4 linked regions of the Homo sapiens genome follow. The protein of the gene in region 2 interacts with the protein of the main gene of each other region in a pairwise test. Each region holds a gene or a part of one and is shown on either strand. Other genes may lie near its edges. The genes, in order: BAG4, KCTD6, CTNND1 and GRB7.

The links.
Region 1: the proteins of KCTD6 (region 2) and BAG4 interact in binary tests that used the Homo sapiens proteins (3 or more experiments, as listed by UniProt).
Region 3: the proteins of KCTD6 (region 2) and CTNND1 interact in binary tests that used the Homo sapiens proteins (3 or more experiments, as listed by UniProt).
Region 4: the proteins of KCTD6 (region 2) and GRB7 interact in binary tests that used the Homo sapiens proteins (3 or more experiments, as listed by UniProt).

What each region holds. Positions count from the first base shown.
Region 1 is NC_000008.11:38,207,848-38,213,821, reverse strand, and holds the end of BAG4 (BAG family molecular chaperone regulator 4), read right to left. Parts: intron 4,810-5,974; coding exon 4,555-4,809; intron 3,815-4,554; coding exon 3,329-3,814; 3' UTR 521-3,328; downstream 1-520. UniProt on the Homo sapiens protein: Inhibits the chaperone activity of HSP70/HSC70 by promoting substrate release. Prevents constitutive TNFRSF1A signaling. Negative regulator of PRKN translocation to damaged mitochondria.
Region 2 is NC_000003.12:58,495,076-58,502,102, reverse strand, and holds part of KCTD6 (BTB/POZ domain-containing protein KCTD6), read right to left. Parts: intron 3,739-7,027; exon of another isoform or gene 3,391-3,738; 5' UTR 3,348-3,390; coding exon 3,321-3,347; intron 1,158-3,320; coding exon 471-1,157; 3' UTR 1-470. UniProt on the Homo sapiens protein: Probable substrate-specific adapter of a BCR (BTB-CUL3-RBX1) E3 ubiquitin-protein ligase complex mediating the ubiquitination and subsequent proteasomal degradation of target proteins.
Region 3 is NC_000011.10:57,756,984-57,764,803, forward strand, and holds the start of CTNND1 (catenin delta-1), read left to right. Parts: upstream 1-4,818; 5' UTR 4,819-5,136; intron 5,137-7,820. UniProt on the Homo sapiens protein: Key regulator of cell-cell adhesion that associates with and regulates the cell adhesion properties of both C-, E- and N-cadherins, being critical for their surface stability.
Region 4 is NC_000017.11:39,733,983-39,740,937, forward strand, and holds the start of GRB7 (growth factor receptor-bound protein 7), read left to right. Parts: upstream 1-3,955; 5' UTR 3,956-4,151; intron 4,152-4,369; exon of another isoform or gene 4,370-4,410; intron 4,411-4,788; exon of another isoform or gene 4,789-4,923; coding exon of another isoform or gene 4,924-4,942; intron 4,943-5,984; exon of another isoform or gene 5,985-6,199; intron 6,200-6,955. UniProt on the Homo sapiens protein: Adapter protein that interacts with the cytoplasmic domain of numerous receptor kinases and modulates down-stream signaling. Promotes activation of down-stream protein kinases, including STAT3, AKT1, MAPK1 and/or MAPK3. Promotes activation of HRAS.

The sequences.
Region 1 (5,974 bases), on a different chromosome or scaffold from region 2:
ATTTAAGACCAGCATAGCAAGACTCTTGTCTCTAAAAACAAAATTTTTTGATTAACAAAAGAAAAACTCAGTTGAAAGTGGTTGCCTTTAGAGAAGGAGAAATGGGGGTGGGATCAGGAGAATGCTGCCTTTCATAGAACTGACTTTTTAAACTCGTAACTTCTACGAATTGAGGTAAACTCCTTACTTTTTTAAAAAAATAAGTAAAAAAAAGTAAAGTTGTAAAAGAAAAGCTCCATCAACTATCCATCCCCCAAAAACTTTTTTATGCCTATTTAATCTACATTCTTCAAAATTTTTTTAACCTGCCTAGCTTTAATGGTATTATTTACATTAACCAACTGAAAAACTGTTTTCAGAACCCCATTTTTAAAAGCATTTAAAAGAATTCTGCACCAACATGTGGAGACACATATAATCCAACCCCTGTATACTTCATTAGGGCTTATTTGTTTAAACAGTTTCATTGGCATTCATACTTGGAACAACAGAGGGTTATTATAAAAAAAAAAAAACATAGTTGTGTTTATCATGCCAGGACTGGGTAACTTTATTCAAGACTTTGACAAAATGATCCCCAAAGTAATATAAATGTAGACACTTTAAAAAGTCCAGATGTGAAATTTCAAGAAAACTTTGAATTCAGTCCAAAGTCAGTATTAAGTCAAAAGTTGAACCAATTCTACAAATCATAAATACTATTTTCCTTCTTAAGTTCATATATTTTCTGAGATAGATTACCAACTTAGTTTTCTTTGATATTGGTATTTGGAATAATTTTAACATGATTTAACATCTTTAAGTTCTAAATCTATACTTATCCTGAATATCTTATTATAGTTAAAAATATAAATCCAGAACTGACAACTCTTCCTTACAGAAGAATTCCAATAATAAATGTAGAAGGATTGAGAGAAATAGAAAATCACCATTAGAACACCACAGTAGTAACTGCCACAAGCAAGATCTGCCAATGGATAGTAAAATGAGCAAAAGTTTAAGCAGAAACGGGACATTTGCATAGTCTCCGGGTATCTCCAGCAAATATTCAATAATTACAAGGAAAACACAGTAAGTTTACAGTAGCGAATCCTAGCAGACACCACCTTAGCATAGTGATCAAGGTTAACAACACCAGAAATACATTACAACATCAGGTATCCCCTGTTATGATACACTGTCACAGACTGGAAGACAGGACGTAGGCATGATAGCTAAATGCAAGGCTGGGTCTTGGAACAGTAAAAGGACATTAGTGAAAAGACTAAAATCTCTACTTTTTAAACTTTCTACTTTAGTTAGTATTATATCAAGGTTAATTTCTTAATTTTGACAAATGTTCTATTGTTACGTAAGATGTTAACATAAGGGCAAGGTGGGTGCAGAGTATACAAGAACTCTACTACTTTTACAACTCTTCTGTAAGTCTAAAATTATCTCAAAAGCTTAAAAAATAACTGTTAGAAAACAAACATGTATGTGCATAACATGTGTACATATATATAAATCAAGACTTCATGGAAATTGGCATCTTGGGCACTCAGTCAGTAAAAGAATAGTGTTCTCTTCTGAATTATTCATTGTCTTACTGGTAGCTTAGCTTTAAGGTCCTCCCCCTTCTAGACTTTTAATTTCAAGTATAAATTTCTAATTTTCATAGAAAAGCCTTTTTTAAACATTCCTATATTAGGCCAAAAATAAAATCCTAGAATAAAATTATCACCATATTATCTTATAAAATCACTCATCCCAATCATAAGACCCAGCCAGTATTTTTACTACATTTCCTCTCCTCATCTGTTTGTATTGGTTTGGTTTGGTTTATGAGTGGGGACAGCTAATAGATTTAGTATTTACTCATAGGCCTGACAGTCTAGGGGAAAAAAAATTATCACTTGGGTATCTTATGAAGAAACAGCTATTTTTCCAAGAACCAATATTGTGTACTCACCTCAGACATAAAAAGTTATTTACCTAAGTCTCTTCTATCTAACAGCATAGAGTTACCCAAACAAGGCCAATAAAGACCCTTTCAATATCCTTTTCTTAAATTTGGCTCTAAAATGACTGTTAATAATGGTAATAAATGTCTTTTTATTAAACAGACAATTTTATCTTATGCAATTTAGGGAAATAAACATAAAATCTACCTTTAAATGAAGAAAATAATAATTTCCCACTCTAACTATGGCTGATTCATTCCCTGAGCATGAATCCCATTTTACCCTCATTGTTTTTAACTATAAACTGAGCTGAAATCTGCTCACAGGTGAAACTAGTATTTTAGATGGAGAATGATATTACCAAGTAATCATATTTATTACTTTTTGTAGTAATTATTTCTACTCACTGTGGCATTTAATGTTTCATCTGTAACTCTCTATCACAATGCCCTCTATAGAAGCAGCAATAGTGAAAACATAACTACACTTTGGGGAAAAAAAAAAAAAACAGGAAAAAACAGATAACTTTTAAGTGGATCTTTATCCAAATACAATAAAAAAGCAAAAAAGAAAAGTGTCCGTAAACATTTTCATTTTATGTCAATGCCATTTCCAAATTTACCTTCCACTACTACCATGAACAGCAGAAGTGGTAAAAAAAAAAAAAAAAAAAAAAGAAGAAAAAAACTCTAACCTAATGATCTATAGAAAAAGGGAGACAATTTACTCACTACACATTGCAGTATATTCAAGTGGTGAAAAGATATAAATTTTTTCAGAACTGCCATACTATCTGGCTGTCAATATAGTCTCTTGAATAATTATATTAAACATATTACTACAAAATGTACCAAGAAGTAGAGAATAATACTATATTTGTAAACTGCAAATAACAAAACAAAACAGAAGTCCAAGAAGGCTAAAGTCTAAGCTATAATTACACATGAAGTATATGTTGAAAGCAGTCACAATGTACAAAAATGTGACAAGATATCCAGATGTTTAAAAAAACACATCCTGTTTGTCTCAGATTATATCCAGTTTCATCTGGTAGGTTTCTGATAAGCCTGTTGTGTGAAGTGTGTTTCCCTCCTGCTGGTAAGAAGCAGCTTGTAGATATCCATAAATTTTTTAAGGAGTGAGTCTACTTGGCAATATTGGTAACTCCATAGTTTCCTATTACATTCATTCGTCTGAAAACTGAAAACAACTCATGACTAAAATATTCTTCCATTCCTTTGCCAGTTTTTCAAGTATAAAATCAAAGGAAAGCTGGAATGTATTGCTTCTTGTCATCAACAGGCATTTCAAAAAGAGGGTAATTAACCAAATCAAGTGTTCTTTGGTCAAGTTAGTAACAGGCTTCCACTTTGTTCTAAATCCTTTCATAATCCTTTTTTTTCTAATTTTTCCAGTATGGCCTGAATCTTACAAACAGCCTCTTTTCTGGCCTGCCGTACAGAGTCCTGGCCCCCAGTTTCAACTGAATCCAGTTCCAAAAGTTCCTTGGTTAGCATTTCTTCCAGAAGCCAGTATGCTTTGTCTGTCTTTTTTCCTACAAATTCTTCTACTTCTTGTTCAAGATACTGGACCTTCTCCAGCACATGTATGATTTTTTTAATACTCGGAGGAGTACTTTCATCTGAAGGTACACATTCTTCAGGAAGACTGCTACTTTGATCTTGATTGTTGGGATGGTCACTGGTGGCATTACCATACAGCTGAGGCTCAGCACTATACTGGACTTGGGAATCCAAAAGATCTGAATCATCATTGTTCACTGTCCCCGAGGATTCGTACTGATGGACACTGCAAGGAAAGTTGTGCCGGTTCATGCTTTGATCTGATTGGCTATAGGGGTATGAAGAATCCTTGGAGTGGGAGAGCAAAAAGAGGAAAAGAGCTGTTTTAATGGGAATGCATCAACATCAAATTTGTTAGCCCACATCTTTCACTTGACCAGAAAGGTACATGAAAAGATTCCCTAACAATAAAATTGGACCCCTCTCCTTAATCATTTGCAAAAAAACACAGTCCTAAGAAGATAAAAGGGAGTGCCCTGTCAGACAAAAGGCACAGAATTTTTGAGTTATAATGGCTGGAACCTGCCCTGTGGCAGGTCCATCACCATGAGCACCTCATAGTCCATCCTGTGACCTAATTAATAAGAATTAGTTTTTCCCCTAAAAGGTTAAAAACCTCAAGCAAGGTCTTGAAAAGGAACACAGCCACAAGTGATAATGTTCAAGTCTGTGGTTTAAATACAAGCTCATGCTACAGATATTTCACATTGGTTTTGTCTTCTGTTCATAGATTATTTGAAGTAGTAAAATGCATCTTTGCATTTAACGTTTAGAAGAATTACAACAAACAGAAAATGTGTATCTTTCTGTCTTTTAACAAAAACGATGTGAATCTAAATCTTCTCTAAATATAAAGTCTATTAAAAAAAAGAAAAAGGAAACCGAGCTGAGGTAAAGCTATAGATAAGTAGTCACCAACTTTTTGTAATTAGTCCCCATTTAACACAAACCAGTACAGAAACTATATAAACCATGTTATGTTCTCCTAATTACACACACATTAAAGGAACAACATTTAGGTCTCCTACCTTGGGCTGCTGGACTGGGGGTGAAGGGGGTGACTGGGGAGAGCCACTGCTAGGCCATGGTGAAGTACTTTCAGTCATGTAGAGATTGCCGGGTGGTGCTGAGGGCGCTGATGAAGGCCAGGGATAACGGCCACCCATTCCATAAGCACCAGGAGAAGCCCACGCATCTTCTTGTGGTCGTACAGTCGGTCCTGATTGTGGAACACTACGATTACCATCTCCATAAGGATAATGGGGCAGGGTCATTCCAGGGTTCTAGATTGAGAAGAAGAAATATACCAGTCATTGTGAAAAACTTATAATAAAAATATTCTGCTACAGGCAGATTCTGAGATGCTTCCTCTCTTCTTAACAGAGTATACATTAGCTGCTACCGGACTAAACTGTAGTAAATCTAATTAATCAGCTGCAGTAATTTCTCCAAGCCTCAAAAAGTTGGTTCCAAAGATACCAGGGGTAGATTTAATGACAATAAAACTCAGAAGGAATAAGGCCTAAAAATTCAATGGATGAAACCCAAGTCTGTCCCATAGATACTATAAACAAACGGACCCATATGCTATAAGGAAGCACAAATAAAGACATGTTAGAACTCCTCTTGAAGTGAACAGAGAAATAAACATAGTTATTCACAGAATATTAAAAAAACATGAACCTGGCCAGGCGCGGTGGCTCACGCCTGTAATCCCAGCACTTTGGGAGGCTGAGATGGGCGGATCACGAGGTCAGGAGATCGAGACCATCCTGGCTAACAAGGTGAAACCCCATCTCTACTAAAAATACAAAAAAAATTAGCTGGGCGCGGTGGCGGGCGCTTGTAGTCCCAGCTACTCGGGAGGCTGAGGCCGGAGAATGGCATGAACCCAGGAGGTGGAGCTTGCAGTGAGCCTAGACCGTGCCACTGCACTCCAGCCTGGGCGACAGAGCGAGACTCCGTCTCAAAAAAAAAAAAAAAAAAAAGAACCTAACAGGGTGCTAAAAAAGGCTAAGATTTGCCTGGCACGGTGGCTCATGCCTGTAATCCCAGCACTTTGGGAGGCCGAGGGGGGCAGATCACGAGGTCAGGAGATCAAGACCATCCTGGCCAACATGGTGAAACCCCATCTCTACTAAAAATACAAAAATGAGCTGGGCGTGATGGCGCGTGCTTGTAATCCCAGCTACTTGGGAGGCTGAGGCAGAAGAATTGCTTGAACCCAGGAGGTAGAGGTTGCAGTGAGCCAAGATCACGCCACAAAAAAAAAAAAAAGGCTAAGATAGGGAAACTTTCAAGCAGCAACTCTCTAAAGATTACTTTCAGTATAAAAATTTATGATTATGACCTTCAGCCAAAGTCCATTTACTGCAATAGCTGCCACAAATAAGAAAGGCATCAATATAAAAGCCTTCCCAATCTAGAAGTGTCTTATTAAATCAGCAC
Region 2 (7,027 bases):
ACAGTTTTCCTTTAATATTACAATACTACTTATTTATTGGTTTGGAAACTAGGTCACCCTACATGATGTTTTGATTTTTCTCAAAGGCATCATGAGTACTCTGCTTATTCTTTCATTCTTGTATTTTTAGCCTTCTAGTTGAGTTAGGGACCATTTTATCAGAAATCATTTTAGCACTGTAATAAGAAAAGCTCTGTTAAGGGTAGATTATATACCATAATGATTTTCAGACTTCTTTTTATAAAAAAGGTATCTGGAGACTCTGAACAGGCACATGCATACTCAGGGGGAAGGGAACAAAACATGGAGGAGTCTGCCAAAGCACAAAACTTCCTTCTGGTCCTCACTGCCTTCAAATAAATACAACTATTTAAAAGAAAAAAAATATCTCACACTGTGATTTAAAAAAAAAAATCAGTATCTTCCATTTCCTGGAGAGTCTTTCCAGGAACCTGTGGCAGGGTCGGAGATCAGTCGTCTGTCTTCCGGGCTAGCCTACAGAAAGTCCAGTTGTGCTCCACTGTGTTTTCATTGGCCCGCTCACTCATGTGATGCACCCGGGTGTTGCGGATCGTGAAACCTTGTTTTGTAATGTATTCCATCAGGTGGACCCTAAGAGAAACTTCCTGGTGATAATCACAGGGTCCAAAAGTAAAGGAAACCTGGCAGTCTCTGGTGTCCATCATGTGCTTATTCCACTTGGTAAAATAATTTGAGATGCCTTCTAGTAAGGAATGGACCTTAGTGGTGATGGTTAGTTGCGTTATGATGACAGCCACTGGGTTGGAGTACTTAGAAAGCTTCCGAGTACTAGACAGCTCCACAACTTCTTCAAAAGTATCCATGGGATACAAAGGCTTAGGATCATTGAGACACTGAATCAAGGGCTCAATCTGGTAAAAATCTGCTTCTTTCCGAAGCAGATCAAATTCCTTAAAATCCAACGGTAAGGTCAATTCTGAAGTTCTTAAGAAGTTGAGGACATATCGGAAAAGAGGTCCATCTCGATCAATAAAGTAATTGCCTTGAGGGTCTCGAGCTGTGGGGAAGTCCCCCCCAAACATAGCTCCAAGCATGGAATCCGGGTAACGCGTCAATGTGGTGAGAGACGTTGTATACAAGTGTCCACCTACATTTAATGTGACTGGGTCAGTCATCTGAAATTTGTAAAGAAATGATCAGTCATCTGAAATTTTTAAATACTAACTTTGACAAATTAAGAAAGTAAGTGATACTGAGCAAAGCCCAAGATTCTTTCAGGCTATAATGTATTTAGTAATCCTCTAATGCAAAATGACTTTACTACCAGCAATAAACCCACCCAGATGAAGTGATCTAACATTTGCTTTCAATAGAAAAAAAAAGGAGAAATCCAATTTCTCTTTAAAGACTTATGCTAAGAATACAGGGCATTGACTTCCAGAGCCAAATCATTTCAGGCCCATTATCTATAGAGTTTTCAGGCCAGAATATATGTGGGAAGGGAAAAGCCACGCTAAAATACACTTATTTTTTTCTGATTTTTTTTTAAGGCTTGCATTTTTCTGAATTTAATTTAACATTAGATAGAATTAAAATGATCTGATAATATAGACATTTACTTTCAATATTTCTTTGGTTTCTCCCCCTCAAACAAAAGGAACAAACTATGAAATTTGTTTTTAAAATAAAAATTTGGGCCAGGTACAGTGGCTCATACCTGTAATCCTAGCACTTTGGGAGGCCGGGGCAGGCAGATTGCCTGAGCTCAGGAGTTCAAGACCAGCCTGGGCAACATGGCAAGACCCCATCTCTATTAAAAATACAAAAAAAAAAAAAAAAAAATTCACTGGGTGTGGTGGCCTGAGTAGTCCTAGCTACTTGGGAGGCTGAGGTATGAGAATCACTTGAACCCAGGAGGCACAGGCTGCAGTGAGCCAAGATCATGCCACTTCACTTCAGCCTGGGCGACACAGAGAGATTTTGTCTCCAAAAAAAAAAAATTATTTAAATTAAATTAAAAACTGTGCAGACCTAATCTTGGTAACTTTTTCATGGAAGTGATACTTTCAAATACTAAGTTAAAATATACAGTTTAGTCAATACAACCAAGCCAGAAAAGCATCACATACCCAAAAGCTTACAGCAGCCATAAAATTTCATAATCTGATAGTGTATTCACTTTTGTAACATTAATGCTGCAATCTGGCCTTTAATTCTGAGAAGCAAGCTTCTCTTAAAAAACATACCTTCAGTTTTAGAAATACTATTTACGAAAAAAATAGGCCAGGTGTGGTGGCTCACACCTGTAATCCCAGCACTTTGGGAGGCCAAGGAGGGTGGATCACTTGAGCCCAGGAGTTGCTGACCAGCCTGGGCAACATGACAAAACTCCATCTCTACAAAAAATACAAAATATTAGCCACACATGTTGGTGCCCACCTATCGTCTCAGCTACTCAGGAGGCTGAGGTGGGACAATCACCTGAGCTTGGAAAGTCATGAGCCGAGATCACGCCATTGCACTCCAGCCTAGGGAAAAGAGCAAGACCCTGTCTCGAAAAAAAAAAAAAAAAAGGAAGAAAGAAAAAAGAAAGGCAGACAGAGACTTCAGGTATAGGCAAGTAAAATATACCTTACACCAAAGGAATAGAAAAATAGGGAGACATATGCACACACAAAAAATGCAAGTGGGGAGAAGAGGCACTTTCTCAACCATTAATCTCCCAAACCACAACAAAATATCCTCCAAACTCACTAGATCCCTTTGTAGTCACTATTCATGAAGAAAGAGTCTTCAGAGCAACACACTTGAAAAAATAAAAAATCACGTTACCTCTCCAGTGATTATAAAAAGTATTTGGAAAATCCATTTTGAGTTTGATTCCATTAAAACACCAAACAAAGGCAGAGGATCGTTTGAGGTCAGGAGTTCGAGATCAGCCTGGCCAACATGGTGAAACCCCGTGTCTACTAAAAATACAAAAATTAGCCAGATGTGGTGGTGCACGCTGATAATCCCAGCTACTCAGGAGGCTGAGGCAGGAGAATCTCTTGAACCTAGGAGGTGGAGGTTGCAGTGAGCCAAGATCGCGCCACTGCACTCCAGCCTGGGCAAGAAGGCGAGACTCCACATAAAAAAAATTAAATAAAAATTTAAAAAACACCACACAAGACAAAAACGCCTCCAAAATACATCTAAACTAAGTAAAAGGGGGAAGAGAGGTTACACAAATTCACAATTTTCTTTTCTTATAAGATATACCTAAAAATACATAAGGATAAAAAGACACACAAAAATAATTCCCCAGCCTTCAAAATGCATCTCCAAGAAGCACTCACCATATAGCCCCAGTCTCCATTATCCATCTGCTCCAGTGATGCGTCTTCAAGAGCCCAGGTTTCAGGGAAACTTCAAGAGGAGAAAAACAGACATATGATAGCATATATAACTAGGAAAATAGAGAAGAAAGTCTTTTTCCACCCAACAGAGGAGGCCAAACACCAGAAAAACTACTCGTCCTTGCTCAGCTGAAACCTACTACAGGGCAAAGATCTGGGGAAGAAAGCATTCCCCTAGGGCCTTCTACATGTCCTGTATTCTTACCATAGAGAACCCATCTGGAACTAAGAGACTGAAGATTTTCAGAGAAAGAACTATACTGTACTTAAGAGAAGGAGGAAGAGTCTAGGAAGTAACCCAGTCATTCAAATTCTACCTCTCTTCTTAGAACATCAATTTTTAGAATTTATATAAGAGAATATTATGATTAACTCTACAACCTTATCCTGGTACAAACCTATAATGGTCCTCACCAAAAAGGTCATTTAAGAAAAAGGGACAGGCTGGGCGCAGTGGCTCATGCCTATAATCCCAGCACTTTGGGAGGCTGAGGCAGGAGGATCACCAGGTCAGGAGTTCAAGACCAGACTGCCCAACATAGTGAAACCCCATCTCTACTAAAAATACAAAAAATTAGCTGGGCGTGGTGGTGGGCACCTGTAATCCTAGCTATTCAGGAGGCTGAGGCAGGAGCATCACTTGAACCCGAGAGGCGGAGGTTGCAGTGAGCCGAGACTGTGCCACTGCACACCAGCCCCTGCAACAGTGCGAGACTCCATCTCAAAAAAAAAAAAAAAAAGAAAAGAAAAGAAAAAGGGAGAAGGGAAAACTCCTTTTCATCAGCATTTCAGCTATACAAGCCAATCACCTGAGTAAAAACATCAAAAATCATAAACCTCCCAGGATACCAGCATCCCTTTCCAAGAGAAATACATCAGAATGGTATTTATCTTACAATATAAAAAAAAAAGATGATGCTTTTAAATAATGATGTATTTCTCTTTGTACAATTAAAACAAATAGAAAGTGATTTAAATGCCGAAGTGTTAAAGAGCACAATTTGGGGCAAAAAGAACCTTACCGATATAGATGAGAGTCAATCAGCCAGCACTCATGGAGAGCCAGCCTTAAGACACTGAGAAATGCTCAGATACTAATGATGCCAATGTGAATTTATTTTTATCTACAATTCAAAAGCATTTAAACAAACAGTTTCCCAGCTACTGAACTGCCTTAGTCAGTTCCCTCTCACACACTTCAATCCCAAATCAACCTGTAAAGCAAACTGCAGAGCAAATTTCTAAAGCTCTGGCAAGACATGGTAAGAAACATGGACTTATTGGTATTCATCCAGGAAAAGCACTGGCTTTTTTACGTGGTCCTTTAACAGATTCACTTTTCCCACTTTTAGAGGAATCTGGCACAGAATTCCCAGAACAAGCCCTAGCTACAGAAGATCACAAAGGCTCTTTCTCAAAAGGTCACTCAGGCATGTAGAGAACATTTGCATAGCACAGCATGGGCTGAAATCAGAGCCTGAAGCATCTATTTCTCTACCTTGCAAATCCTTCAAAGCACACAACTAAAATGTGGACCAGACTATGGGGCAGTCAGTTTTTATTCTTTACACTCAGCAGTTGGATATAGACAGGCCTCCACATGCTATGGGGTGAGAAATGGAACAAATGTCAAATTCAAGACTGTTATGACAGTCTTTCATTCCTCTGACTTGCTTCACAAATAGTATCCGAAGTAAACAGGACCAAGAAATGGGCTTTGCCAATTTGTCTTGCCAGGATCTGATTCAGTTACTGATAACAACAGATTAGTAACTGAGCAATTTAAAAGGCCACTCATCCAAAAGTTCTGGTAAGATGCTCATCTTTGGCATTTTCCCATCACCCAAAGTATTCATTCTGACAGCCTCAATAATCATTCATTCAGCCAACAATTATTGTGGGTCACCTATGGAGTGGAGGGGGTGCCTATGTGCAATGCGGACACACAGAAAGAGGAAAAAGACAATCTTTGCCCTCATGGAGCTTTCCATCTATAATGGAAGGCAACATGCAATGACTGAAGTACAGAACAGAATTCAAAGTGCTGTATAACAGATGGACCAGCAGAGGCCCGTGAGAGGGGAAAAGCAAGATTTCAAATGGGAAATAGAGGACTTCTGGGAAGAGCCCATTCAGTTGAATCCTTGAAAGAAAATTCGGACAACCTGAGAAGGGATTCTAGAAGGAAGAAACAATTTAATAGACAGGGGCATGAAAGACTTTTTTTCCCCCTACAACATTCCTGATACCAGTAGGCCGAGCAGGGATTACTATCCTCATCTTAAAGATGCAAAACAGAGAAACAAGGCAGATTAAGTGACTAGCTGAGGGCGCCACAGCTGGGAAGTAACTAGATAAGAACTTGCATGTTCTGACTCTTAGTCTAGATTTTTCCATAAATCCCCTCCTAGGGTAGAAATTGAAAGAACAGAATCCAAGAGACAAGAAATTGAAAAAGCTTAACTTTAAACTCTCTATAGCCATCTATTAACCCTATCCATCCAGTAGGGTTTTATTTACAAATTTTACAGTAACTCAGCCTAACTAAACAGTCATAATGGGTTTGTAAAAATTCTCCTGAGGCCCCCCCACCAAAAAAAGGCAGGAACCCATTCAACTAGTGTGAATAACGGTTGCTGTCCTGTCTGTAGTGACATAAAGAACTCCAATCCGTGAATATCCAAATGATTAAATGAGAAACAGAAGATCAAAGACAAGGAAAAAAGCAGACATCAATGTTGCAGCCGTTAACGAAAAGTCTGTCCACTATTAACCCTTTTTTTCTTTTTTACTGCTAAATCAAAACAAGGTAACTTCTTGAGCAGTTATCTAAAAAAAAAAAAAAAAAAATTAGACGATGTCCCTGAATCTGTTCCACAGCAAAAGCAAAAGTTCCGGTACAAAGATGTAATGAAAGCTCACGCTTAATAATTCAGGAAAGCAATTATGGGAATCTACAGCCCATGTTTCTTAAAAACCACCCAAAAGCCTTCCTATACTTGTGTATAAGATACATCAAAATAAATTGAAGCAAAGTTACTATTAGTCACTTCCAATAACAATGAGTAAACTGTCTAAAGAAATCAAATTGTGCATTAAAGAGTTCAAAGGGAAAAAACAGTATTGATTAGTTTAAATTTTATCTCTACCTGCTTCTAAATATCTTCTGTGGAGATGCTTAAATACAGCAAGAAACAAACAAACAAAAAAAAAGCATGAAAAATTCCCTGTTATCCAATAGCTGGATAATGATCGGCTTCTGAATTCTGAATTGACGACCATTAGGAACATCTCTGAAACGATGCAGATGAATGAAATACAATCCCAAAGAATTTCCAGAATAGTTTCAATCTCTTCTACTGAATCATTTTCCAGAGCTACTAACAATTAGAAAATGATTCATTTGCTTTTCATCTTCTCTCCCTTCTGGCACAGTCTCCAGTGGAGGGCTTAATGAGAAGTTAAATGACCACAAGACAGGCAGCAGAAGGAAGATCTTGAAATGGGTATCAAATAGGCCTATTTTACTTGATGAAAGCAAAGAAATATCTAATATTTCAGAAAATCTACCAGGAATGGTAACAATAAAAAATTTTTCCTTTATAGTGACTTTCCTTACTAAAACTAAAGATGGTTTTGAAAGACAG
Region 3 (7,820 bases), on a different chromosome or scaffold from region 2:
AGAACTTCTAAAGGGATTGATAAATGGCCATCCTATCCAGGGCTTCAAAAATGACAAACTTTGATTGTAATGTGTAACCACCAGAGGGTGGAAAGGAGTAAAAATATTTTGTTTTTCTTTGTATGGATAACCAGTGGGGTTTTTGGAGTTGAATTTTTAAAATTTCTTCTTGGCATTTATAGTTTTAGCCTATTTTATTTTATTATTTATTATTTTATTTATTTTTGAGACAGCGTCTCACTCTGTCGCCCAGGCTGGAGTGCAGGCGCAATCTTGGCTCACTGCAACCTCCACCTCCTGGGTTCAAGCAATTCTCCTGTCTCAGCCTCCCGAGTAGCTGGGACTACAGGTGCAACACCACACCTGGCTAATTTTTGTTTTTTTAGTAGAGATGAAGTTTCAGCACATTGGTCAGGCTGGTTGGGAACTCCTGATCTCTGGTGATCCACCTGCCTTGACCTCCCAAAGTGCTGGGATTAGAGGTGTGAGCTACTGCACCCAGCCTTATTTTATTTTTGAGACAGGGTCTCACTTTGTGGTCACCTAGGCTGGAGTGCAGTGGCACAAACACAGCTCACTGCAGCCTTGAACTCCTGGGCTTAAGCAATCCTCCTACCTCAGCCTCCCAAATTAGCTGGGACCACAGGTATGCACCACTATGCCCCGCGTGTATTTTTAGTAGAGAAGGGGTTTCACCATGTTGGCCATGTTGGTCTCGAACTCCTGACCTGAAGTGATCCACCTGCCTTGGCCTCCCAAAGTGCTGGGATTACAAGCATGAGCCATCACACCCGGCCTATTTTAAATGTTCATTAATTTTAAATACCTTGACCAGGCATATATAACTAGCAAGCTAAGAGACTTTATTCACTCATTTAGTTGTTGCTAAATATGAGTTACAAGGTTGAGCTCTGGGGATAGACCATGAGCAAAAAAGACACTATTCATGGAACTTTTTTTTTTTTTGAGACAGAGTCTCACCCTGTCACCCAGGCTGGAGTGCAATGGCACAATCTCAGCCCACTGCAACCTCTGCCTCCTGGGTTCAAGCGATTCTCCTGCCTCAGGCTCCCGAGTAGCTGGGATTACAGGTGGTGTGCCACCAAGCCCGGCTAATTTTTTGTATCTTTAGTAGAGACGGGGTTTCACCATGTTGACCAGGCTGGTCTTGAACTTCTGAACTCGTGATCTGCCTGCCTTGGCCTCCCAAAGTGCTGGGATTACAGGCGTTGAGCCACTGCGCCCAGCCCATGGAGCTTATCTTCTGATGGGGGAGACAGAAGTATACATACACACAAATGAAAACAAAAGAAAAAGGAAGACAAAATACTTGCAAGTTGTGAGTAGTGATGTCTTCAACAAACAAGACCAATCTGTCTGTAGAAAATCATGTAACATTCTAGTATGTGGCTTTGATCTCGGAATCAATGAATCAACAAACATTTTTGGGCTGGTTGTTTTCCTTTGGTGATTATCTTTGGCTTTTGAACTTGCTATGGAGGACTAGGAATTGATGGGGAATAGAGGTAGAAAATGTGATAAAAGGAGAAGATTTTTAGGTAATGAGGCTTAAAGGCTGTTCATATCTTTGTTATAATGTATTCATTTTCAGCTGTAGTTTATTTAAAGCCCATCAAACAAGTGCTGTAATGCATGTTTGGTTTTTCAACACTTCTGAGGAAAGTCCTTTTTGGCCACTATAGACCAAATATAGGTCTATGAGACTATAGACCATATATATAAGGGAGTGGATAATGACTACATCAGCATGATTAAAAGCACATTCATGCTGAGTTGTTGAATTCTAGTTTATCTAGGTAAAGAAAGGTCAGATTATGGTTGATAATGTGTTACTTTAATGTACTGAATGAATAAATGTGGTGCCTTCAAAGCAGATGATAGTCCCCTACCATCCCAGTCAACATACAGTAGTCCTGTTTCTAGGATTTCTCTTGACCTTTATCTTGACCATAGTGTAACGTAATAGAAAGAGCATGGGCTGTGGAGTGAGACTGGTGAGGGTTCACTTAGCCAGATGAGATCAGGCAAATTTCTTCACCTTATTGGACCTTGATTTCCTCATCTGTAGAATGGTTGTAGTACTATTTCTGTGGTCATGTTTTAGAAGTTTGAAGTACTGAGCTCAAAATACCTCTTACATGGTAGACACTTCATCATTGGTTGCTATTATTGGGCAGTGGCTCACCACTGCAAGTTTTTGGGCAGGGTAGTTACTGAATAATAAAAATAATGATAATGCATTCTTAGTGAGTTTATACTACATGCCATACATTAAGAACTTTTGTTTTGAACCGGAGTCTCGCTCTGTTGCCCAGGCTGTAGTGCAGTGACACGAGCTCAGCTCACTGCCTCCCGGGTTCAAGCGATTTTCCCACCTCAGCATCCTGGGTAGCTGGGACTACAGGTGTGCGCCACCACGCTTGGCTAATTTTTGTATTTTTAGTAGAGACGGGATTTTGCCCTGTTGGCTAGGCTGGTCTGGAACTCCGGAGCTCAGGTGATCCGCCTGCCTCGGCCTCCTAAAGTGCCAGGATTACAGGCTTAAACTACGGTGCCTGGCCCAAAGAACTTTTTGTGTATTTTAATTCCCACAACAGTCTTGTGAGAGAGATATAGTTATCTCCATTTTATAGTTAAGGAAACTGAGGTTCAGATTATTTAATTTGGGTCAAGGTCACATAATAGTACATATATTTGAGTAAGTGTACTTACTTACAGAGGTGGAGTTTGAAGCTAGGCAGTTTGTGAAAACCTATACTCTTAAAGTTTCATATTTCTTTCTTTTTTTTTTTTGAGACGGAGTTTTGCTTTGTCACCTACACTAGAGTGCAATGGCATGATCTCGGCTCACTGCAACCTCCACTTCCTGGGTTCAAGCGATTCTCCTGCCTCAGCCTCCCGAGTAGTTGGGATTACAGGCACCCACCACCATACTCGGCTAATTTTTGTATTTTTCGTAGAGACGGGGTTTCGCCATGTTGGGTCAGGCTGGTCTCGAACTTTTGACCTCAGGTGATCCACCCACCTCGGCCTCCCAAAGCTCTGGGATTACAGGTGTGAGCCACTGTGCCCAGCCAAGGTTTCGTATTTCTATTCTAGATTTTGATAACTTGATGAAGACTCATTTGGCAGCAGTCTATAGGGTAAGTTTTAGATTAGTAAGAAAGAAGAAGGAAATCTTTGATTCATCATTGTCTTTGTTTTAGTAATCAGGGAATAACCATAAAATGCTAATCTTTGTCAAGCATGTTAAAAAAAAAATCCAGCCTCTGTCCATCATGGTCTAACAGTTTAAAAATATGTCCTAACTCAGAAAAATAATACCCCAATAATCCTTTATTTAGGTCAAATGTAAAAAGAGAATGTATAAGCTAGATCATCTTAAGCTTGAAGTTCACAAAGAAATAAAATGTTCTTTTTTTTTTTTTTGAGACAGGAGTTTCGCTCTTGTTGCCCAGGCTGTAGTGCAATGGCACAATCTCAGCTCACCGCAACCTCTGCCTCCCCGGTTCAAGCAATTCTCCTGCCTCAGCTTTCCGAGTAGCTGGGATTACAGGCATGCACCACCACGCCCAGCTAATTTTGTATTTTTAGTAGAGACAGGGTTTCTCCATGTTGATCAGGCTGGTCTCGAACTCCTGACCTCAGGTGATCCGCCCACCTTGGCCTCCCAAAGTGCTGGGATTACAGGCGTGAGCCACCGCGCCCGGCATAAAATGTTCTTGACATGAGATTTACTTTCTTTACCTATGCTGTTATTCCCTCTAAATATATTGCTTGTTTATTGGATTTCATTTCCTCTTTCCAACAAACCCACATTATTTTGATTTGGGGACAAATTGGGAAGACAGTGATTTTCTTTAACAGCCCAGTGGATTCTGCTTCCTTCTAATTCAAAGTATGGAGATTAAAACTGTTAACAAGTCTAGGCATTAAAAAAAAAAATAGCTCTAGATGGGGCGTGGTGGCTCACGCCTGTAATCCCAGCACTTTGGGAGGCCGAGGCGGGTGGATCACCTGAGGTCAGGAGTTCGAGACCAGCCTGACCAACATAGAGAAACCCCGTCTCTACTAAAAATACAAAATTAGCTGGGCATGGTGGCACATGCCTGTAATCCCAGCTACTCGGGAGGCTGAGGCAGGAGAATCGCTTGAACCTGGGAGGCGGATGTTGCGGTGAGCTGAGATCGCACCATTGTACTCCAGCCTGGGCTCGAAACTCCATCTCAAAAAAAAAAAAAAAAAATAGCTCTAATGCAATTAATCCAAAACAGTGAAACTGAGTTTACCTCAGATATCCCCTACCATCCCAGTCAACATATAGTAGTCCTGTTTTTAGGATTTCTCTCTCCTTTCTTTCCCGTCTTCCTTTAGGGAAATGCTTTGGGGTAGGAAGCAACAAACCAAACAGCAGCAGGCAAGTAAAATCAGCTCTTTTCTATTTCCCCACTGGGATAGTACAGAAGAGGGAGCAAGAACTCATCATCAAAGAGAACTGAGACTTAGGCGTACCATTCTAAAAAGCCCTTGTTCCTTGTCTCCCTTGCCTCTTCCGCCCCCCTCAGCTCTGCAGTAATTCCTCAGAGATTGTACAGTCTCTCCACTTTAAATATAAATATATAAATATAAATATATATATGTATAAACTTCCCCCTGTCTTTCTCTCCTCTCTTTTTTTTAATTTTCTATAATAAAGTTTCCTATTGGATAAGGTCAGCTCCCTGATTTATGCCTGGTTCCTATTGGAAGCTCACAGGGGCTGACATCACTTAGGAAAGCGAAGGGGGTAGGGCTGCCAGATCAGTTTGTCACCACCCAGGCTCCCTTGCCTTTGGCTGGGTGCAACTTCCATTTTAGGTGTTGGATCTGAGGGGGAAAAAAAAGAGAGAGGGAGAGAGAGAGAAAGAAGAGCAGGAAAGATCCCGAAAGGAGGAAGAGGTGGCGAAAAATCAACTGCCCTGCTGGATTTGTCTTTCTCAGCACCTTGGCGAAGCCTTGGGTTTCTTTCTTAAAGGACTGATTTTTAGAACTCCACATTTGAGGTGTGTGGCTTTTGAAGAAAATGTATGTACTGACGGGAAAAGGAGGATAAGCAAGTCGAATTTTTGTCTTACGGTAACCGGAGGGAATTAAAAAACGGGAGAGTCTGTTATGCTGATGAGTAACTTTTAAGCAATTATTTTTCTTTTCTACTTTCAGTACTTTGGCGGGGGAGATTTTGGTATTTTATTATATTTAAAAAGGTAAAATATACAAGACCTAGAAACAAACTTCTAGGTCTCTTTAATACAGGAAGCTGAATAGATCCAGAGGGGTAAGAGCAGGTTTGAAAATTTACATTTTGGTGTGTTCTTTGATTTTATTTATTTATTTTTCTGGATTAAGCTAACATATTTCTGTTTTCAGAGCCCAAATCAAAAGTTGGTTTTTTGGCATGTTGCATGTGGGTTGGGAAAGAAATTTGTCCGTGTCGGAACCCAGTTATACCGATGGTTCTTCATATGTTTAAAACTTTTTTTTTCTTTTATCATTGGATTTGTGGAAGTGGAAAGTTGCAGGGAGCTTTGCAGTGTAAATGGTATTGTTTTTCCCCCAGAGAGTTTGAACGGCCCGTATCGGTTTCAGCCCTGCTGTTCCTGGGTGGATCCCTCTTACTTTTCCAGGTGCGGTGGGTGGGAGCCTCATTCTCCTGCTAGATGTAGTCTCCCTTCTTTGGCTTATAAAAGAAAACAAATGGAACCATGTTAACTGAATTGCCATCTCCTTCTTCCTTCTAAACTACCTTTGATAGCAAAGATTTGTGGAGGTGTTTGTTAAATCTGCAAATACGATAACGTTTGGTTTATGTGTTTAAAGGGATAAGGAAATTCTAATCATGCTTTTTATTTCACCTGAGTAAAGTGGCAACATACCTGAAAATATTTTCAGCTTTTTGCACTCTGAAAGGGCCAAGGGTGGAATAAAATTAGGTTTAGAAAAACCATTTATACAAAGTTTAGTGTTTAAAATACATTTCAGAAAACAAGGGAGATTTTTATTTTTAAACCAACCTGAAAGTTGTTTTTTGGAGTTGAATTTATTGTTTAGTTAATTTACCATGAAATCTGAAATCTCTTAGAGCTGAAGGCCCATGACTGTGCTTTCATATCTTATATTTAATCTTAAGATTTGTTTTGTTTTTGCAAATACATTCTTGCAAAAGTACGGATTCTAGATAATTATATAGCCAACTCATCAGTAGCTGAAAAACTAGGGTATTCTCTTCTCTTTTTGAAAATGTGAATCCGCCTGAAAATTATAGATGCTGTCCTAATTGTAACAAGATGGGCTTTAGTGTGTAAGCTGCTCATTAGCTTTAAACTGGTATGGATCTTTAATAATCTGATTTCGTTCTCCCCTCACCCCCCTGCCACAAATTTTTTTAAGACTAGACTTCCTTGAATTTCTTTTCTAGAATGAGGGTATTTCTTGAAAGACGATTTCATCCTTGTGAAGTTGTGGCTTCAGGAGGAAACAGAACTTTGTTCCTCCTTCAAATACAACCTAGGCAAAGGCTGCAGGAAATTTTTGATGTCTGAATCTCATAATTATAACAAGTACAGTTAAAAAGAAAGAAAAAATACAATGTGTATAGGCTGTTGAACTGTAGTTCTTGTTTAATATTTTCCAAATTTTCTTTCAAATGTTCTCTCTGCCTTGACTCCAGCCTGGGGAGGTTTCTTGGATCTTTAGAGTGTTGGTCATGTTGCTTCCAGAGTGTCTGTTTCCCACTCAACCTTTAGGGGGAGGGATGAGGGAATCTGAAGGAGGAGTACAAAGGCAGTTTGAAAATAGGTTCTGGATGACTGAGTGGTGGTGATTTGGGTCTAGCTTTAAATAGTGGGCTTTGTGTAGCTGAAGTGAGCATCCTAGTTAACCTAGTGTCCAGGACTATTTCCACGAACTAAGGGTTGTTTTGACTGGTGTGTAGTACAGAGCCTTTGGGGTGATAAGATGGAAGATTTGTCTTTTACCTCACCTCCACTGGTTCTTTCAGGAATTATAAGGGATGCAGATAAGTAAATCTTTTATTTTTTAAATTTTTTGTTTTGCTCATTGTCTTGGTTTTGGGGTAAAAAATGATGATAGGTAAGTATGAGCTGTTCAGATATTTCTTTCCTTGTTTGCCTCCTATGTACGGTTGGTTTCTTTGTTATGTGAGTAAGGTAGTGGTCTGTGTTCCAGATTGCGGGGCGGGGGGGCGGTTCTCTTTTAGGTGGTTGGAGTTCTAGTACCTTTCTCAGGGTTCCAGCATGGACAGTCAGAGAAGCTCCAACATGTTCTCTGAGCTAGGGTAAAATTGAGACTATTGGTGATATTAACAAAAAGAAAAGCACTAAGTAATTACAATCCAGCCTTAGGTTTATGAAGTAGCTGCTCTCCAGGGATGAATGAGATAGGATGGATGCAAATAAATTAAGCATAGATCACTATCAATTGGAATAACAAAATGATTAGCTTTGTATAATTTATCTCCTTCTATTTTGGTACCCTGTTAGTAACTGCCAAGGCCCTCATTCCCCCCTACCTCCCCACACCTTGTTTTTAGTGTATTCTAAGCATTTTGCATAAACTATTAATTTCCCACCACTGGTTTTTTTGTTTGTTTTGTTTTTTAAGGAATTTGACCCTCAGAGAAGCTGAGGTTTGGTGAAAATCTCACTGCCTGTAAATGGTTGAGGCCAGGATTAACCCTGGTCTGACTAACTACAAAGTCCATGGACTTAACCACTAATATACTGCCATTCTCCAGAGAGAAT
Region 4 (6,955 bases), on a different chromosome or scaffold from region 2:
CGCAGTAGCACAATCACAGCTCACTGCAGCCCCAACTTCTCAGGCTCAAGTGATTGTCACACCTCAGCCCCACCAAGTAGCTAGGACTATAGGCCCGCACCACCATGCCTGGATAGATTTTATATCTTTTGTAGAGATGAGGTCTTGCCAGGTTGCCTAGGCTGGTCTCAAACTCCTGGGCTCAAGCGATTCACCTGCCTCAGCCTCCCAAAATGCTGGGATTACAGGTATGAGCCACCATGCCTGACCCCTTCTTTTTTTTTTTTTTTTTTTTTTTTTTTTTCGTATGGAGTTTTGCTCTTCTTGCCCAGGCTGGAGTGCAATGGCACCATCTTGGCTCACTGCAACTTCCGCCTCCTGGGTTTAAGCGATTCTCCTGCCTCAGACTCCCGAGTAGCTGGGATTACAGGCATGCACCACCATGTCTGGCTAATTTTGTATTTTTTTTTTTTTTTTTTTTTTTTTTTTAGTAGAGATGGGGTTTCTCCATGTTGGCCAGGCTGGTCTTGAACTCCCGACCTCAGGTGACCCATCCGCCTCGGCCTCCCAAAGTGCTGGGATTACAGGTGTGAGCCACTGCGCGCGGCCTCCTGGCCTCTTATTAATGGTGGCTTTTGAAGTGCAAAAATTTTAAATTTTGACAAAGTCTAACATCAATTTTTTTCTCTTGTCAGTTGTCTTTTTGCTGTTATATTCAAGTTCTCTGCCTAACCCAAGGTCATGAAGACTATCTCCCATGGTTTCTTCTAGAAGTTTTATGGTTTTAGCTCTTACATTCAGGTATCTGATCTATTTCAAGTTTTTTTTTTCTTATGCATCCTGTGAGCAAAAGATCTAAATTCACCTTTTGGCATGTGGCTATCCAATTGATCACAGCAGCATTTATTGAATGCCTATCCTTTCCTCCATGAAATTGTCTTGGCACCTTGTAAAATCAATTGACCAGAAATGTAAGGGTTTCTACTTGGACTCTGGATTCTGTTCCATTGACCTATAAACGCATTCTTATTTATTATTATTATTATTTTCCCCCGAGACGGAGTCTTGCTCTGTCACCCTGGCTGGAGTGCAGTGGCACGATCTCAGCTCACTGCAACCCCCGCCTCCTGGGTTCAAGCAATTCTCCTGCCTCAGCCTCCTGTGTAGCTGGAATTATAGGTGCACACCACCATGCCCAGCTAATTTTTGCATTTTTAGCAGAGGCGGGGTTTCACCATGTTGGCCAGGCTGGTCTCGAACTCCTGACCTCATGATCCACCTGCCTCGGCCTCTCAAAGTGTTGGGATTACAGGTGTTAGCCACCGTACCTGGCCTTATAGTTGTTGTTGTTTTTAAATTCAGATACAACTTATACACAGTAAAATTCATCCTCTTGAGTGTACCTTTCTTTTTTTTTTCTTTTCTTGAGATGGAGTCTCGCTCTTGTCTCCCAGGCTGGAGTGCAATGGCTCGAACTCAGCACACTGAAACCTCCGTCTCGTGGGTTCAAGAGATTCTCCTGCTTCAGCCTCCTGAGTAGCTGAGATTACAGGCGTACGCCACCACGCCCGGCTAATTTTTGTATTTTTAGTAGAGACGGGGTTTTGCCATGTTGGTCAGGCTGGTCTTGAACTCCTGACCTCGTGATCCACCTGCCTCAGCCTCCCAAAGTCCTGGAATTACAGGGGTGAACCACGCACCCAGCCTTGAGTGTGCCTTTCTATGAGTCCTAAGAAACACACACATTTGTGCATCCAACCCCAAAACCAAGATACAGTATGGTCCCATCACCTCTCACAAGTCCCTGTGCCCCCTACTGTGGACCCCTCTCCCTCCTCCCCAACCCCAGACCTGGTTTTTGTTCACACAGTTCCACCCGCTCCAGAAAGCCATATAAGTTGATTCCTACAGCACTCCGCCCTCTGACTGTGGCTTTGTTTCCATCCCATCCTTCAATATCCAGGATGATCTTTCCAAAATGTAAATGTGCCCTCTCCTCTGTGCTTCTACTTAAGTCTAAATACAACTTGCAGGGTCTGGTCTTTGACCGCTACTCCTGCCCATCTGGACAAACAGGATGGATGGCTCTCAAACCTGGTTTGCAGAACAGCCACCTGAGGGCTTGTCAATACCACACCTTCCTGGGTCTTAGCCCTAGAGACTGAGATTCAGTTGCTGGAGAGGAGCCCAAGAATCTATTTTCCACACAAGGTTAGGGAGGTCTAGAGGCCACATTTGCAGAAGCACAGCTTCCTCTCTCCACACCTTCCACACCTGTCCAGGTTCACCCACGTGGCCTCTGCTTCCTCCCTTCTCCTCCAACCCCACTCTCTGTCTCCGCATGCTGCATCTCCTCCTGCCCAGAGCTCTGGCATTGATTTCCTCACTGGGGAAAGTGGCCTCCTTCCCCAATTCCCATCCACCGATTCCAACCCCCTTCCCATGTCAGCCAGCTTCTCCTCTGCTCAGCTGTCACCTCCACTGAGAAGTCTTTCCTGACTCCCTATGTGAGTCATTTTCCCAGCATAGTTGTCTCCTGTCATTTCTTATTTGTGTGATTCTTTGGTTAACATCAATCTTCCTGATTGGCTGTGTGAGGATGGGCGGGGTCTGTTTTTGTTGTTTACGCCTGTATCCCCAGCACAAAACATGGGGCTGGCATATGGTAGGTACTAAACAGATAGTTGAATAAATGAATGAGTGAATTGTCTACTCTGCCTTTGCACAAGCTGCTCCATCACCAAAGAGACCTTGCCTCCTCCCCCACTTCTTTGCTGGGCCCACTCATACCGGTTTTCCTAGGAAAACTCTGGAGAAAATTGAGGCAGGAGCCACTCATTCGTGCCCCTTCCAGGGTGGACCTCTTATCACCCTAAGGATTGTTTGTTTTCCTGTCACCCACATCAAGCTGGGTGGTGGCCGCAGCCTTTGATCTCCACCTCCTAACCCCTCTCCCAAGTACCCTGTGTTTGCCCAGCACTGAATGAGACAGCTAAAGTGATCCCTGAGAGAACTAAAGTGTTCCCTCAGGCCGGGCGTGGTGGCTTATGCCTGTAATCCTAACACTTTGGGAGGCCGAGGTGGGCAGATCACCTGAGGTCAGGAGTTCAAGACCAACTTGGTTAACATGGAGAAACCCCATCTTTACTAAAAATACAAAAATTAGCTGGGTGTGGTGGCAGGCGCCTGTAATCCCAGCTACTCCGGAGGCTGAGGTAGGAGAATTGCTTGAACCTGGGAGGCAGAGTTTGCAGTGCGCCAAGATGGCACCACTACACTCCAGCCTGGGTGACAGAGCGGGACTCTGGCTCAAAAAAAAATAAAATAAAGTGATCCCTCTAAGAGGAATCCCCAGGGGCCCAGGCCAGAGCTTTCTCCAGGTCACCATGGCTCCTCCCACTGTGCCACCCTGCCTAACCCCCTCGATTTTAAAGGAGAAGCCAAGACTCTGGACTTTGCTCAGAAGGTGGGGGGCGGGGGAGGGAGGGCTTACCCTGGGTACCTCTGAGGGGCCAGGGCGCAGCCACCACGGTAAGGGTGACTGCAGATCGAGGGGCAGGCCATGTTGCTGGACACCACCCTGGCTGGCGTCCCTCTCGGCAGGGTGCTCTTTGCCCCATGGGGTGGGATCCAGAGCTGCAGACAGGCCCCCAGGCTTGGCCAATGAACAGACCAGGTTCGGGGAGGGTGTTGGAAAAGAGTGGATGGGGTGGTTCCCCTTACCTTGCAGCCCCCAGGCCCTCCCCCCTCCCTCCCAGGTGGTCGGGACTCTTGATCTTCGCTCGTGGTACTGTCTGTTCGGCTGTCTTCCCCGCCTCTCCCCAGGCACCTGCATCCTCCCTTGGCACCTGCTGCCAGGCTAGGAAGGGCAAAAACAATCCCAGTTGGCGTAGTCAGGGAGTCTCCGCCCTCCTCCCAGGTTTCCTCCTCCCAGGCGCCTCCCCTGGACCCGCCCCCATCTGCCCAAGATAATTTTAGTTTCCTTGGGCCTGGAATCTGGACACACAGGGCTCCCCCCCGCCTCTGACTTCTCTGTCCGAAGTCGGGACACCCTCCTACCACCTGTAGAGAAGCGGGAGTGGATCTGAAATAAAATCCAGGAATCTGGGGGTTCCTAGACGGAGCCAGACTTCGGAACGGGTGTCCTGCTACTCCTGCTGGGGCTCCTCCAGGTAAGGGGACCGAGATCGGTCTCAGACGACAGCCTGCCAGGCAACCCCCAGCCGCACCAGGGCCCCAGGCTGTGCCAGTCTCCGGCTGAACTGGCCGGCGGCCCAGGTGGGAGGATTGGAGCCACCTGGCTCTCCCCCTCCCCCGCTCGGTGATGTCAGGCCAGGGGCGGGGGCTGGAGGGGGACAGGTAGTTAAGGGCCTGGCGTCTCCCTCCCTGAAGACGTGGTCCCAGCCGGGTGTCCTGACGCTCGGGGTTCAGGTAAGAACCCAAGCGGGCATTTATCCTTTGGGGGCAGGCACGGCCGGTCTGGAGGCCGGTAGGGAAAGGCTGGGTCTCCTGATGGGTTGCTTGGCCTCCCACTTTTCTCTTTTCTGTCCATTTCCCACCCTGCCCCCTCCTCCCCACCCGCCCTCTTTTCGTCCCCATCCTGGTTTCCAGCGCTCCTTGTTCCCTCCCTGTACACCTCCCTGCAGGCAGCAGCTGAGAATGGGAAGGAAGACCTGATTCTCTCCTCCGACTTGGCTTTCCCGCTGAAACTAGCCCCTCCCCGCACACCCGGGGAGAGCCGCCCTCACTCTCTGGCTCGCCCAGTTTACCCCAGTTTGGGTTTCCCCAAGTCTCTAAGACAGACGTCTCTGCGGGCTGCGGGGAGATGTGGGGAGGGCCCCCTCCACTTTGGAGGGCAGTGAAGGAGAGGGATCCTCTAAATTGTCGAGGCTTCATCTCTCCAGATTGTATGCCCTTCTCAGCAACACCGCCTCCGGCCCTCCGATGGGAAAGTGGAGGCCGGGTGAGACGGGGTCCCTCCTGGCTTCAGCATGAAATGGGCAGGAAGGCTGGAGGGGTGTATGAGGGGCTCTGCAGTGCGGTGGGGCCTGGGGAGAGTGGGGTGGGGGATAGCAGATGGTTTCTTCTGCTTGATGAGGCTAGGGAGAGACCCAGGTTCCCGGTCTGGGTCTCCCTGGCAGATTGAGGACAGAGAATGAATGCATCTGCCGGCAAGGTGGAACGCCCCCCACCCCGCCCCCCAACTAGCCGCACCGCCCCCCAGGAATGCCCTCTTTTGGTCCGCCGGTCTTGGACTCTGCTCTCCCCTCTCCTGATATCCTACTGTATGCTTGGTGGGGGGACCTCATGGAGGCGGGCAGCCTGTAATGATTAACTGCAGAGACACTCCAGCATTCTTCCCGAATTAAACTTTAAAAGAGCTGCCCCGCCTTCTCCCATTGGGTATTTTTCCTGAGTGAGAGTGGGCGGGGCCTCAGAGTCCTGGGTCCTCCCTTATACTAGGAGTCATCCAGGGGTTTCTCACCTTCTCACCTGGGCCCTGCACCCTAAAAAATTATAAGCCTCTCCCGTGGGGGCGGGGCGTGGAGTACTGGGCGGACGGGGGCTCTCCCGCCACATCCAGGCCCCTGGCCCAGGCCTCAGTCCCGCAAGCCCTTCCCCCTGCTCTGGGAAGCAGAGTTGTTTTCTGTTGGCCCTGAACACCGGGCCCCGCCACCTGCCCTTAGGGCCAGCCAGGTGGGGCGTGATTCAGGAAGTAAACAAGGAGGTTGGGAGGACGGGAACGCGGGTGGGGCTGGAACCACTGGGGGAGGAGGCAGCTGGGAAGCCACGGACGGAGTTACCTCGTTGAGGGGACAAACTGATTTTGGGGGTCGGTGTTTCCAACCGAAGCTTTACCGGGGCCTCAGTTTGAAAACTCCAGATCTCTAAGCTGCCAGGCCCACAGCCAGGACCCCTTCCTCCTCCCTGCTCACCCCATTGGTCTTGACGATTCCACCCGCCTCCAGCCTTAGAAGCTTAAGGGCACGGCTGGGGGGCTCTGAAGGCAAACCCCAGCCTTGGACTGGCCCTCTCTGATCTCTGAGGCCAGGCTCTAATGTGATTTGAATCTACTTCTAACCCCTTCCAAGCACTGCCCTCCCGAATTCTCTGCTCCTCTCCCCACCCCACTGTTGGTCTGTGATTTCGAGGCAGGCGTGGCCCCCTGCAGCCTGGAATGAAGTCACTGGGGCTGTTTGGAGACCGGGGCTGTTTGGAGGTTAGACTGGGGTGGGAGTGGGGGATTGTGTTCTGGTATTGAGGTGCTGGTGTCTCTTGCTAGCGGGTGATGGGTGTGTCGTGCCCCTCCTGGCAGGACCCTGAGCCCCCTCCCTGGCCTTTCATCCTGTCTGTCTTCTTGAGTGTTTTCCCTTTCCACTCCTGCTCCTGTGGTACCCCTCTGGCCGGGACACCCAGGAGAATGTGTCAGGAGGAACTTCATCCACACAGGGCAGGGGCTCTGAGCGATGCTTTGGGTGGGGAGGGGCACCGCCGGGATGCTGGCTTCTCTCCAAATGGGCCTCTGAATCCAGGCCGGGCATTGCCTCTCTCCTTCCCAGGCGAGGGACTCCCTGGCGAGGAGGTGGTTTGGGACTGGGGGTGAGAGCAGATCGTAGGTCCCACCTGGCCTGGAGCTAGGCCGAGGGTGGGGAGGAGGAGGTGATGTCAGGAGCCTCAGGCCCACATCCTCCTCCCCCATCCTGTTCCCAGCCCCGTGCCTCCCCCATTCCGCTCTGGCTAGCAGTGGGTTGGGGAGTTGGGGGAAGGGTGGAGGCAGGGCTGTTTTTGTTTCTCCTAAGCCAGGAAGTTGTGTGGATGAGTCAAGGTTGAATGGAGAGCCCTAGGCAGTGTTGTCCCGCCCGCCCTGACTCACCTGTCCCCCAAATCCCCTGATGCCCTCACTGAAGGGTCAGGTGCCTGCTCCCTCCTGAGGGGTCAATCCCAGGTGCCCCAGGTGGCCTCATAGTACTGGCCC